Linked DNA regions of Homo sapiens: region 2 is linked to region 1. Evidence: fine-mapped expression QTL. A gene starts in region 1. The other region holds a variant in brackets. All regions are shown on one strand. Distances are between the middles of the regions.

Region 1 (5,364 bases):
CCCTGGGGCCTCTCTGCATGACCCCTGCGGAGGATTGAGCTGGGCCCTTGAGGCTGCCACAACACAGGGCGACAGAAGTGAGCTCCTGTCCAACCATAGCTATTTTGAGGCTTTCTCCTCACAAACAAATCTCATCTAAGTGGTCATGAAACAGCTCAGCTGATCTGGAAAAGAAGAGGAGCCGACTGTGTGAACCTGCAGGGGAAGGGGGTCTGCCAGCAGAGGGAGCAGTGCAGGAAGAGGCCGTGATGCAGGACACCATGCCTGGCGGCGCTAAGACGAACTGCAATGCCGTTCCTCCAGGGGCAGTCATTGAGGACAGAGGCTGAGAGTGGCAGGTGGTGCTGGGAGCCCACCTGGGCCTGGAGGGAAGGCTGCTGGGGACCAGCAGGGGGTGGCTGAAGAGACAGCTGGAAACCCTCCATCCCCATCCACACCCAGCCCTGAGGGCCCCACCTCACCCGGAGTCGGCCCCGCTCCTCCTCGCTGAGCTGCCGCTGTGACAGGGACAAGGTACCATCCTGCTGGTTCCAGAGCAGTGAGCCCCGCTTCCGGAAGTTGGCACTGTCATCTGTGAGGAGCTCAGGTTCAGAGACGCCCCCTCCCCCGCCCACCCTTCAACCCAGGCAGGGGCCAGGAGGTCCAGCTTCAAATTTTGGCCTGGCCTCCACCCGAGTGACCAGGTTCCCTCCCCATCTGGGCCCCCATTTTGCTATCTGCAAAGTGGGGACACCTCCACCATGTTCCACCTCACAAGGCAACCCGTAGCAGATGCATGAACCCCACAGCTCCCAAATCCTGCCTCTGCCTCACCAGGTGACCCAGGGATAGCCACACAACCTCTCTGAGCCTCAGCTTCCCCAACTGCAAAATACGGAGGCTGTGGAGTTCAGGAATTCCCAACTACCTGGCCATGTCAGAATCAGGGGAGCTGTTCACTGAGCAGATGCCAGGGTTTGCAGAGGGGCACCAGCTTCAGGGTTTGTGCCCTCAGGTTCGGGGCCTCAGACTCGATTACTACACTCTGGGCAGCACTGACGTCCAGCTCTGGGAACCTGGACACCTGCATCATGGCAATTTAAGTTTGGGTTTGAAGCTGGCCCCTGCTCTGCCACTCACTCACGATGAGACCTTGTGTGGTGCCTACTCTGAGCCCGTTTCCTCTTCTGGAAAAAGGGGCTGACACGAATACCTACCACCTCACATGGCTGCTGTGAGGACATCTGAGTTAATACTTGCAAAGCGTGGAACCGCTAATGCTGGGCACGTGGCGACTGATCAGGAAAGCCGCTCTGAAATTATTACTGCTGTGATGACCTTTTAAAAACTGAGGTTTGTCTCACAGGCAAGGGGGCATTTAAAGAGTGTTTCTCTTCTTTCATGTCCCACTTTCCCCTAACCTGAGGCAAATCTGTTAGTAAATGGTTGTTAGTAAATGTCATACGACGGGAGGCACCCAGACTCCAAGTCTTGACTTCTCAGGGCACCAATGTTAAGTGTCTAGGAGAGGACGTTGCCTGACTCACCGATCTCAAATGAGTGCTCCAGCAGCAGCCCCACCGTGCCACAGGCCTCGCCCTCTCGACCTTCCGCCCCAGCCTGCAGAGGACACAGAAGGCCCCAGGTGAGGACCACCCAAGCCCTCAGCATAGTAGTCACCCACAGAACCCAGGACAGACAGACTGGTGGGCTGAGGGAGGAGCCTTATCTTCAAGTTAATCACTGCTGCTTGCCTTTATTTCACTAGAAACCACCCATTTCATGAATATTCATACTCTGCACTCCCTCACCCCCAGAAAACCAGACCCTACAAACATGCCTAACCTCATTGCCAAAGCAACTATCCCAAGGTCACTTCCAAGCCTTGCGCCACAAATACTCATGAGTTAAATGACACTCTCCCTCTCCCAAGCCTTCTTTTTCATGCTAATATTCAAATGGCCTCCTTATCACCTGACAGCCCAATAGCCAAGATGCAGCCTGAGTTCAGTCCCTATTAAGCACATTCAAGATTCATGCTTTCCTTTTCTCCAACCTCCAAACTTGCATACTCACGCATATTTAGGAGACAAAACTCATCTCCACTTCCTCAAGAGCCCCCTCCCACGCCTTATTTTCTTTTTCTGAGACAGGGTCTCGCTCAGTCGCCCAGGCTGGAGTGCAGTAGCGTGATCTCAGCTCCCTGCAACCTCTGCCTCCTGGGTTCAAGCGATTCTCCTGCCTCAGCCTCCCGAGTAGTTGGAATTACAGGCACCTGCCACCACATCCAGCTAATTTTTGTGTTTTTAGTAGAGACGGGGTTTCACCATTTTGAGCAGGCTGGTCTTGAACTCCTGACTTCAAGTGGTCCGCCCGCCTCGGCTTCCCGAAGTGCTGGGATTACAAGCATGAGCCACCGCGACCGGCCTAATTTTTTTTTTTTTTTTAGTATTTTTTGTAGAGACAGGGCTCGCTATGTTGCCCAGGCTGGTCTTGAACTCCTGGCCTAGAGCAATCCTCCCGCCTCGGCCTCCCTAAGCGTTGGGATGACAGATGAGCCACCGCGCCCGGCTTCACCTTGCCTCTTTCATTTCAACCGCCCGGACGTCGGATTCTCCAAGATTCCACACCCCCAGCCCCGCCCCCTCATACATATTCCCGAGCCAGAGCCTTCCGACAGGTGCGCTTGTCCTCCCACCCAGTCCTTGCAACCCGGTGCACTGGCGAGGCCCCTCCTGCGCGTGCGTGACTGAGGCCTGGCTTTCCAGGGATCTCCCACCTCTTCCCTCTCAGCCCTGCGCAGCCTCCTTCCGTCTGTAACTCACCTAAAGACCCAAGACCTGCGACATCCGTAGACCGCGCCCGCTATGCACAGCTAAAGAGCACTCACCCCTCGCGCACCAGTCCCGGCCCGGCAGCCGCTGCCCCGGGCTCGACTGGGCGCTGCTACCGCCATCAGCAAGAGCAGGAGCAGCCGGGTTGCCCCAGCGCTGGCTGCCGCCATCTCGGCTTCTTCCCACCAGCGAAGGGACGGCTGTGAGCCAAGAGCCGCGGAGCACGCCGGGAGGAACAGGCCGCATCCTGACGCCCGTGCGCCTGCGCTGGGCCCCGGCACCTGCGCACTGGCACCCGTCCGCACCTGGGGCCTGACGTCAGCAGGATGGGGCCGCCCCTTTGGCCTGATCTCCAGGAGCCGCCCCCTCCAGGGACGTCATCACAAATCAGGAGCCCGCTCTTGTGTGACGTCATAAAGCCCGCTCCGCATCATGACGTCACAGTGCGCGTAGTCCCGCCCCCTCGCTTTCTCCCTCTGCTCCTCCGTCCGCTCCCGTCGGACGGGGACATTGCAATGAGGCGGGATCGCGGCCCTAAGCCGGCCCTGGGTGGAGCTGGCGAGGTGGAACCAGGTGGGATGGCAGGTGAGAGAGGGGAGCCAGGCCTAGAGGGGTTGGACCTGGTGAAGGAACCAAGTAGGATGGGGCCGGCAATTCGGGGGCATCTGATACCCCGTCCTCTCCGCGGGGCTGTGCCGGGCCCTCTCAGTTGGGAAGCCAGGCACAGCCTCCCAGGATCGACCCCCAGACTTCGTCCTGGTAAAATGCCTCCTGGTTGCAGCCTCTCCCACGGGCCGTCCCAGACGGCTCCAACGCTACCTCCAGAGCGGCGAATTCGACCAGTTTCGGGACTTCCCCATCTTTGAGAGCAACTTCGTACAGGTAGGGAGCCCCAGAACCCCCTCATCCCCAGCCTCGGCCTGCCCCTCGACCTCCTCCTGACTTGGAAAGCCCCTGCTCCCCCATAACGTCCATCTCGTGGGATTCCCGACTCCCAACTCCTATGTGATCTCTGACACCCCATACTTCTAGTTCTCTAGATTCTTTGTGAACCCTGGCCTGTAACTCCCTTGCCTCAGTTTCCCTGACTTCACACCCATATGATTCTTGAACTTTAATTTCAAGATATCTGGCCCCCAGCCTGATTTTCAACTCACCTGGTTCATGACCTTTTCCCCTACCAAGATTCCTAACCTCTGATCCCTCCTCAGTTCTGCCCCGACATCTATCCTGCCCCGACCTCTGACCTCTGGCCCCAGGTGACTCGGTTGGGAGAAGTTGCCAACGAGGTCACCATGGGGGTGGCAGCCTCCAGTCCAGCCCTGGAGCTCCCGGACCTATTGCTTCTGGCCGGCCCTGCCAAGGAGAACGGACACCTGCAACTCTTCGGGTAACTGCCCCCACCTCAGCCGAGACCCCTTCCTCCCTCAGCTCCAGGCACCTGAGCCCCCAGCAGTACCTCCCCTCGTCCAGACCACCCCCAGGGCCAGGAGCTGGCAGTGCTACCGGCCCTCCCTGAGCTGCCATCTACCCGGGAGAACAAGGACAGAGCAGCCCTCAGGGGCCAGAAATCAGAGATTAGACAGACCTGAAGGGGACAGTCCTCAGCCATGCCCCAGCAGCGGTCAGGAGAATGATCATTTCCGCAGGGCCTGCTCATGCCAGACGCCCCTAGGCCGCGCATACGATCTCACCTCTGACCTCATATCTTCACATGGTGGGGTCCCTTAGCCCCATCCGCCAAAGAGCTAAACTGAGGCTCAGAGAGCCGGGAGCCAGTTGCCCAGGGTCCCACTGTGGCTCCAGAGTGGGCCAGGATTGGAATGCCAAGCTTGTCATGATTGTGGATCTCATGGTTCTTGAGCCCTCCTGTGCCTCACTCCACACTGCCCCTTTACGTCATATTTTTTCATTGAAAAAGTAATGCAGATCGGGTGCGGTGGCCCACACCTGTAATCCCAGCACTTTGGGAGGCCAAGGCAGGCAGATCATTTGAGGCCAGGAATTTGAGACCGGTCTGGCCAACATAGCAAAACCCTGTCTCTACCAGAAATACAAAAAATTAGCCAGGGCCGGGTGCGGTGGCTCACGCTTGTAATCCCAGCACTTTGGGAGGCTGAGGTGGGTGGATCACGAGGTCAAGAGAACGAGACCATCCTGGCTAACACAGTGAAACCCCGTCTCTACTAAAAATACAAAAAATTAGTCGGGCGTGGTGGTGAGCGCCTGTAGTCCCAGCTACTCGGGAGGCTGAGGCAGGAGAATGGCGTGAACCCAGGAGGCGGAGGTTGCAGTGAGCTGAGATTGCGCCACTGCACTCCAGCCTGGGCGACAGAGCGAGACTCCATCTCAAAAAAAAAAAAAAAAATTAGCCAGGTGTGGTGGCGGGCGCCGGTAATCCCAGCTACTCGGGAGGCTGAGGCAGGAGAATTGCTTGAACCCAAGAGGTGGAGGTTGCAGTGAGCCGAGATCATCCCACTGCACTCCAACCTGGGTAACAGAATGAGTGAGACTCTGTCTCAAAAAAAAAAAGAGAGAATAAAAAAGAAAA
Region 2 (5,364 bases), 26 kb before region 1:
CTCCCACTTACCTTACAGGCCAGACACCCTGGTGTGTGGGGCCGAGAGCCCAGGAGGCCTCCTGGTTCTCTGCCACCTCATGCCAGTTTCTCACTGCTGGGCCTCAGTTTCCTCATCAGTGACACAGCAGAAAAAAACACAAGTCCGTGCCCCCTGGGGCTCACGCTCCTCCGGTGCTGGAGAGAGACCAGTGGCAAACAAATGAGTTTGATCTCCTGGGTTCCACGGGGGTCATTGCTAAGGAGAAAGCAGGTGTTTACTTCTTTATTTGATTGATTGATTGAGACAGGGGTCTCACTCTGTCACCCAGGCTGGAGTGCAGTGGGTCAATCACAGCTCACTGTAGCCTTGAACTCCTGGGCTCAAGCGACCCTCCCACCTCAGCCTCCCAAGTAGCTGGGACCACGGGTGCATGCCACCATACCTGACTACTTTCTTTAAATTTTTTTGTAGAGATGGGATCTCGCTTTGTTGCCCAGGCTGGTCTTGAACTCCTGACCTCAAGCAATCTGCCTGCCTCTGCTTCCCAAAGTGCTGGGATTATAGGTGTGAGCCACCATGCCTGAGTTTACTTCTTGACTCTCGATTCTATTCCGTTGATTGGCAGGCGGGCAGAACAGTGGCCCCAAAGATGTCCACACCCTGGCCAGATGTGGTGCCTCATGCCTGTAATCACAGTGCTTTGGGAGGCTGAGGTCCACAAGTATGAGACCAGCCTGGGCAACATAGCAAGACCCTGTCTCTAAAAAAAAAAAAAATTAAAATAAGTGGCATGTGAGGCTGGTGGCTCACGCCTGTAATCTCAGCACTCTGGAAGGCCGAGGCGGGTAGATCACCCGAGGTCAAGAGTTCAAGACTGGCCAGGCGCGGTGGCTCATGGCTGTAATCCCAACACTTTGGGAGGCTGAGGCAGGCAGATCACGAGGTCAGGAGATCGAGACCATCCTGGCTAACACGGTGAAACCCCGTCTCTACTAAAAATACAAAAAAATTAGCCAGGCATGGTGGCGGGCACCTGTAGTCCCAGCTACTTGGGAGGCTGAGGCAGGAGAATGGCATGAATCCGGGAGGCAGAGCTTGCAGTGAGCCAACATTGTGCCACTGCACTCCAGCCTGGGCAACAGAGCGAGACTCTGTCTCAAAAAAAAAAAAAAAAAGAGTTCAAGACCAGCCTGGCCAACATGGTGAAACCCCATCTCCACTAAAAATACAAAAATTAGCTGGTTGTAGTGGCGGGTGCCTGTAATCCCAGCTACTCAGGAGGCTGAGGCAGGAGAATCGCTTGAACCCAGGAGATGGAGGTTTTGGTGAGCCAAGATCGCACCACTGCACTTCAGCCTCGGCAACAGAGGAAGACTCTGTCTCATAAATAAATAAGCGGGACATGGTGGCCAGCACCTATAATCGCAGCTACTTGGGAAGCTGAGGCAGGAGGATTGCTTGAGCCCAGGAGGTTAAGGCTGCAGTTAGCCATGATCGTGAGTAAGAGAGATCTTGTCTCAAAAATATAATAGCCCAGGCATGGTGGCTTACACCTGTAACCCTAGCACTTTGGGAGGCAAAAGCAGGAGTATCACTTGAGCTCAGGAGTTTGAAACCAGCCTGGGCAACATAGTGAGACCCCGTCTCTACAAAAAATTTTAAAATAAGCTAAGCATGGTGGTGCACACCTGTGATCCCAGCTACTTGGGGGGTGGAGGCAGGAGGATCACTTGAGGCCAGGAGGTCGAGGCTGTAGTAAGCCATGATCGAATCACTGCACTCCACCCTGGGTGACAGAGTGAGACCCTGTCTCAAAAAAATAAATAAAAATAAATATAATAGACCAGGCACGGTGGCTCACGCCTGTAATCCCAGCACTTTGGGAGGCCAAGGCGGGCAGATCGCGAGGTCAGGAGATTGAGACCATCCTGGCTAACATGGTGAAACCCCGTCTCTACTAAAAATACAAAAAAATTCGCTGGGCGTGGTGGTGGGCACCTGTAGTTTCAGCTACTGGGGAGGCTGAGGCAGGAGAATGGCGTGAATCCAGAAGGCAGAGCTTGCAGTGA[A/G]CCAAGATCGTGCCACTGCACTCCAGCCTAGGTGACAGAGTGAAACTCCGTCTCAAAAATAATAATAATAATAATAATAGGCCAGGTGCCGTGGCTCACGCCTATAATCCCAGTACTTTGGGAGGCCGAGGTGGGTGGATCACGAGGTAAAGGGATCGAGACCAGCCTGGCCAACATGGTGAAAACCCCATCTCTACTAAAATTACAAAAATTAGCCAGGTGTGGTGGTGCACGCCTGTAATTCCAGCTGCTCGGGAGGCTGAAGCAGGAGAATCACTTGAACCCAGGAGGTGGAGGTTTTGGTGAGCCGAGATTGCACCACTGCACTCCAGCTTTGGCAACAGAGGAAGACTCTGTCTCATAAATAAATAAATAAGTGGGACGTGGTGGCCTGCGCCTGTAATCACAGCTACTTGGGAAGCTGAGGCAGAAGGACTGCTTGAGCCCAGGAGGTTAAGGCTGCAGTTAGCCATGATCGTGAGTAAGAGAGACTTTGTCTCAAAATATAATAGCCCAGGCATGGTGGCTCACACCTGTAACCCTAGCACTTTGGGAGGCAAAAGCAGGAGGATCACTTGAGCTCAGGAGGTCGAGGCTGTAGTGACCCATGATCGAATCACTGCACTCCACCCTGGGTGACAGAGTGAGACCCTGTCTCAAAAAAATAAATAAAAATAAATATAATAGACCAGGCACGGTGGCTCACGCCTGTAATCTCAGCACTTTGGGAGGCCGAGGCGGGCGGATCATGAGGTCAGAAGACTGAGACCATCCTGGCTAACACGGTGAAACCCCGTCTCTACTAAAAATACAAAAAAATTAGCCAGGCATGGTGGCAGGCGCCTGTAGTCTCAGCTACTGGGGAGGCTGACGCAGAATGGCGTGAATCCAGAAGGCGGAGCTTGCAGTGAGTGGAGATCGTGCCACTGCACTCCAGCCTGGGTGACAGAGTGAGGCTCCATCTCAAACAAACAAACAAAAAATTAGGCCAGGTGCAGTGGCTCACGCTTATAATCCTAGCACTTTGGGAGGCTGAGGTGGGTGGATCACAAGGTAAAGAGATTGAGACCATCCTGGCCAACATGGTGAAAACCCCATCTCTACTAAAATTACAAAAATTAGCCAGGTGTGGTGGCACATGCCTGTAATCCCAGCTACTCAGGAGACTGAGGCAGGAGAATTGCTTGAACCTGCAAGGCGGAGGTTGCAGTGAGCCGAGATCGCACCAACTGCACTCCAGTCTGGGTGACAGAGTGAGACACCGTCTCAAAAAAAAAAAAAATTAGCCAGGCATGGTGGCAGGTACCTGTAATCCCAGCTACCTGGGAGGCTGAGACAGGAGAATCGCTTGAACCCAGGAGGCGGAGGTTGCAGTGAACTGAGATCGCGCCATTGAACTCCAGCCTCAGCAACAAGAGTGAAACTCCATTTCAAAAAAAAAAATTAATTAAAATAAATACAGTTAAAAGATGCCTTGTCCTAATCCCTGGAGCCTGTGAATATGTTGTGTTACTTGGCCAAGGGAGAGTGAGGTTGCGAGTGGGACTGGGACAGGGAGAGTGTCCTGGATCCCCCGGTGGGCCCCGGGTCATCACGAGGGTCCCCACAGCGGAGGAGGGACGCCTGTGCTGACGGGAAGTGTCGGCCCACCCTCCCAGCTCCCACCCTGTGGGGAGACCCAAGGGGACACCAAGAGTTTCTGTCCCAGCAGTGGGGGCTTTTATGGGGTTCCCACAGAGCACTGCAGGGACGAGAGAACAGAGAAGGGACCCCGGGACAAGCAAGTCGCATAAAATGGCCCAGAGACAAGGCTGGCCACGGAAGGCTGAGGAGGGCTCTGCAGAGGCTGGCGGGGCACGGGAGGGCACTCCAGAATTGGAAGTCATCCCGGATGAGACCTGGAACGCCACGGCTGTTTATCGCCAGAGTTATTTGAGGAGGTGATGAAGGAGGAGGGTGGGTCCCGGCCAGGAACCCAACCAGGCGGGACCTCCAAGGGCAGCCTGGGAGCTGCGAGAAGGGAAGGACAGGTCAGCTCTGGGTGCAGAGACCCCTCTGGGGCTGCAGGCACAGAATGGAGGGGGAACCAGAAGCCAGGAGGCCCGGGAGGAGGCTGGGAGGGGCGAGGCAGGGCTTGAGCTAGGCCCCTGAGGGCGACAGAGAGGAGGGTCTGAGGCTGGTGGGCCCTGGGAGGTGAGGAGGCAGGAATGAGTGGAAGGTGTCCAGGGGCCTGGATGAACCTGGGGATCCCCGTTAGGCACCTGCAGAAGTGGGGGACTCAGGCACAGGGAGGCAAGGGGTCCCTGGCTTGGGGTGTGTCCCCTCCTGGAGCCACAGGCCCATGCGCCCAGGCAGGCAGTTCATCCAGGCAGCCCACAAGCTGCCCATGCACCCCTGGCAAGGTGGAGCTGATGCCCCGCAGGACACACTCATGAAAGCCCTGGCTGCGCATGGACCAGGGTGTGGCAGGTTCTGGTTTGCAAGTTTTCCCAAGGTCAAAGGGCAGGTCGTAAAGTTAAAAGCCAGACAGCACCGGAGGGGAAACTGCTGGGGGTTGCAGACTCCCGAACGGCTCTGGCCCCATCCCATCCAGATCCCTGCACCTCCTGCCCGCCCACCGGGCTCCCCACGCCTCTGCTGGTGTGGGTCTCGCTCTCTGCCCCATCTGGGTGTCTGGCCCCGGGCCCCTGGCTAACCCCCTCTGTCTCTGTGTCTCCCTCTCTCGCTTCGCCTGTCTCAGCCTCCCTTCTCTATCTCTCTTGCTGGGCATTTCTCTCCACCCCTCTCTGTCTCTTTGACCCTGTCTCTCTGTCTCTCCCACGGTCTCTCTCAGTCTCTCCTCAGCTCGCTGTCTCTCCCCTCTGTCTGTGTCTCTCCCCTTCTCTCAGTGCCCCTGGGCCCCTCCCTGCCACCCTGTGCCTGTCGCCTGTCCCATCGCAGGTCCCAGACAGACTGGCGGGGGCCTGAGTGTTGCTATTCTTGGGCCTGAGTGGCAGGCGGGGCTGTGGCCCCCAGGTGCGTCCTGGGCTATGGCCAAATAAGGTCCGGAGTGAGGAGCCCCGGGAGGAGGAGCTGGGGGCGCTGGGGGTGGGGGGAGAGGGGCCAGCTGACCTCCTCCTGCTCCCACTCCCTCCTGCCCCAACCCCCATATTCTGGCAGGTGAGAGCGGGCAGGACAGACCAGGTCATTGCATCAACTAAGCACTTACTGTCTGCCCCTCACAGTGCAGAGCGCCTGTGCCCCCACCCGCTGGGACTGCTCTTCCCAGGGGAGCGCCTCAGGACTCAGAGGGCTACCGCTTGCCCCAGGGCAC

Evidence for each region. PIP is the estimated chance that this variant, and not a neighbour inherited with it, causes the effect.
Region 2: its variant is the best candidate, but not a certain one, in a credible set for the expression of EMC10 in monocytes (TOPMed, PIP 0.52).

Annotation. Positions count from the first base shown.
Region 1 is chr19:50,474,164-50,479,527 of GRCh38, reverse strand. It overlaps EMC10 (ER membrane protein complex subunit 10), which reads right to left and starts at 3,021. Exons shown (of 7, transcript NM_206538.4): 1 at 2,870-3,021; 2 at 1,527-1,599; 3 at 462-571. The coding sequence starts at 2,983. GARIN5A (golgi associated RAB2 interactor 5A) reads left to right here and starts at 2,680. Exons shown (of 5, transcript NM_001308429.2): 1 at 2,680-3,398; 2 at 3,595-3,695; 3 at 4,025-4,203. The coding sequence starts at 3,140. RefSeq lists enhancers at 2,817-3,016, 2,883-3,383.
Region 2 is chr19:50,500,580-50,505,943 of GRCh38, reverse strand. No RefSeq gene overlaps it. Among named protein-coding and RNA genes, the nearest start is that of JOSD2, 7.9 kb to the left of the region's middle. RefSeq lists an enhancer at 3,950-4,613. The variant A/G (reference allele first, on the strand shown) is at 2,052.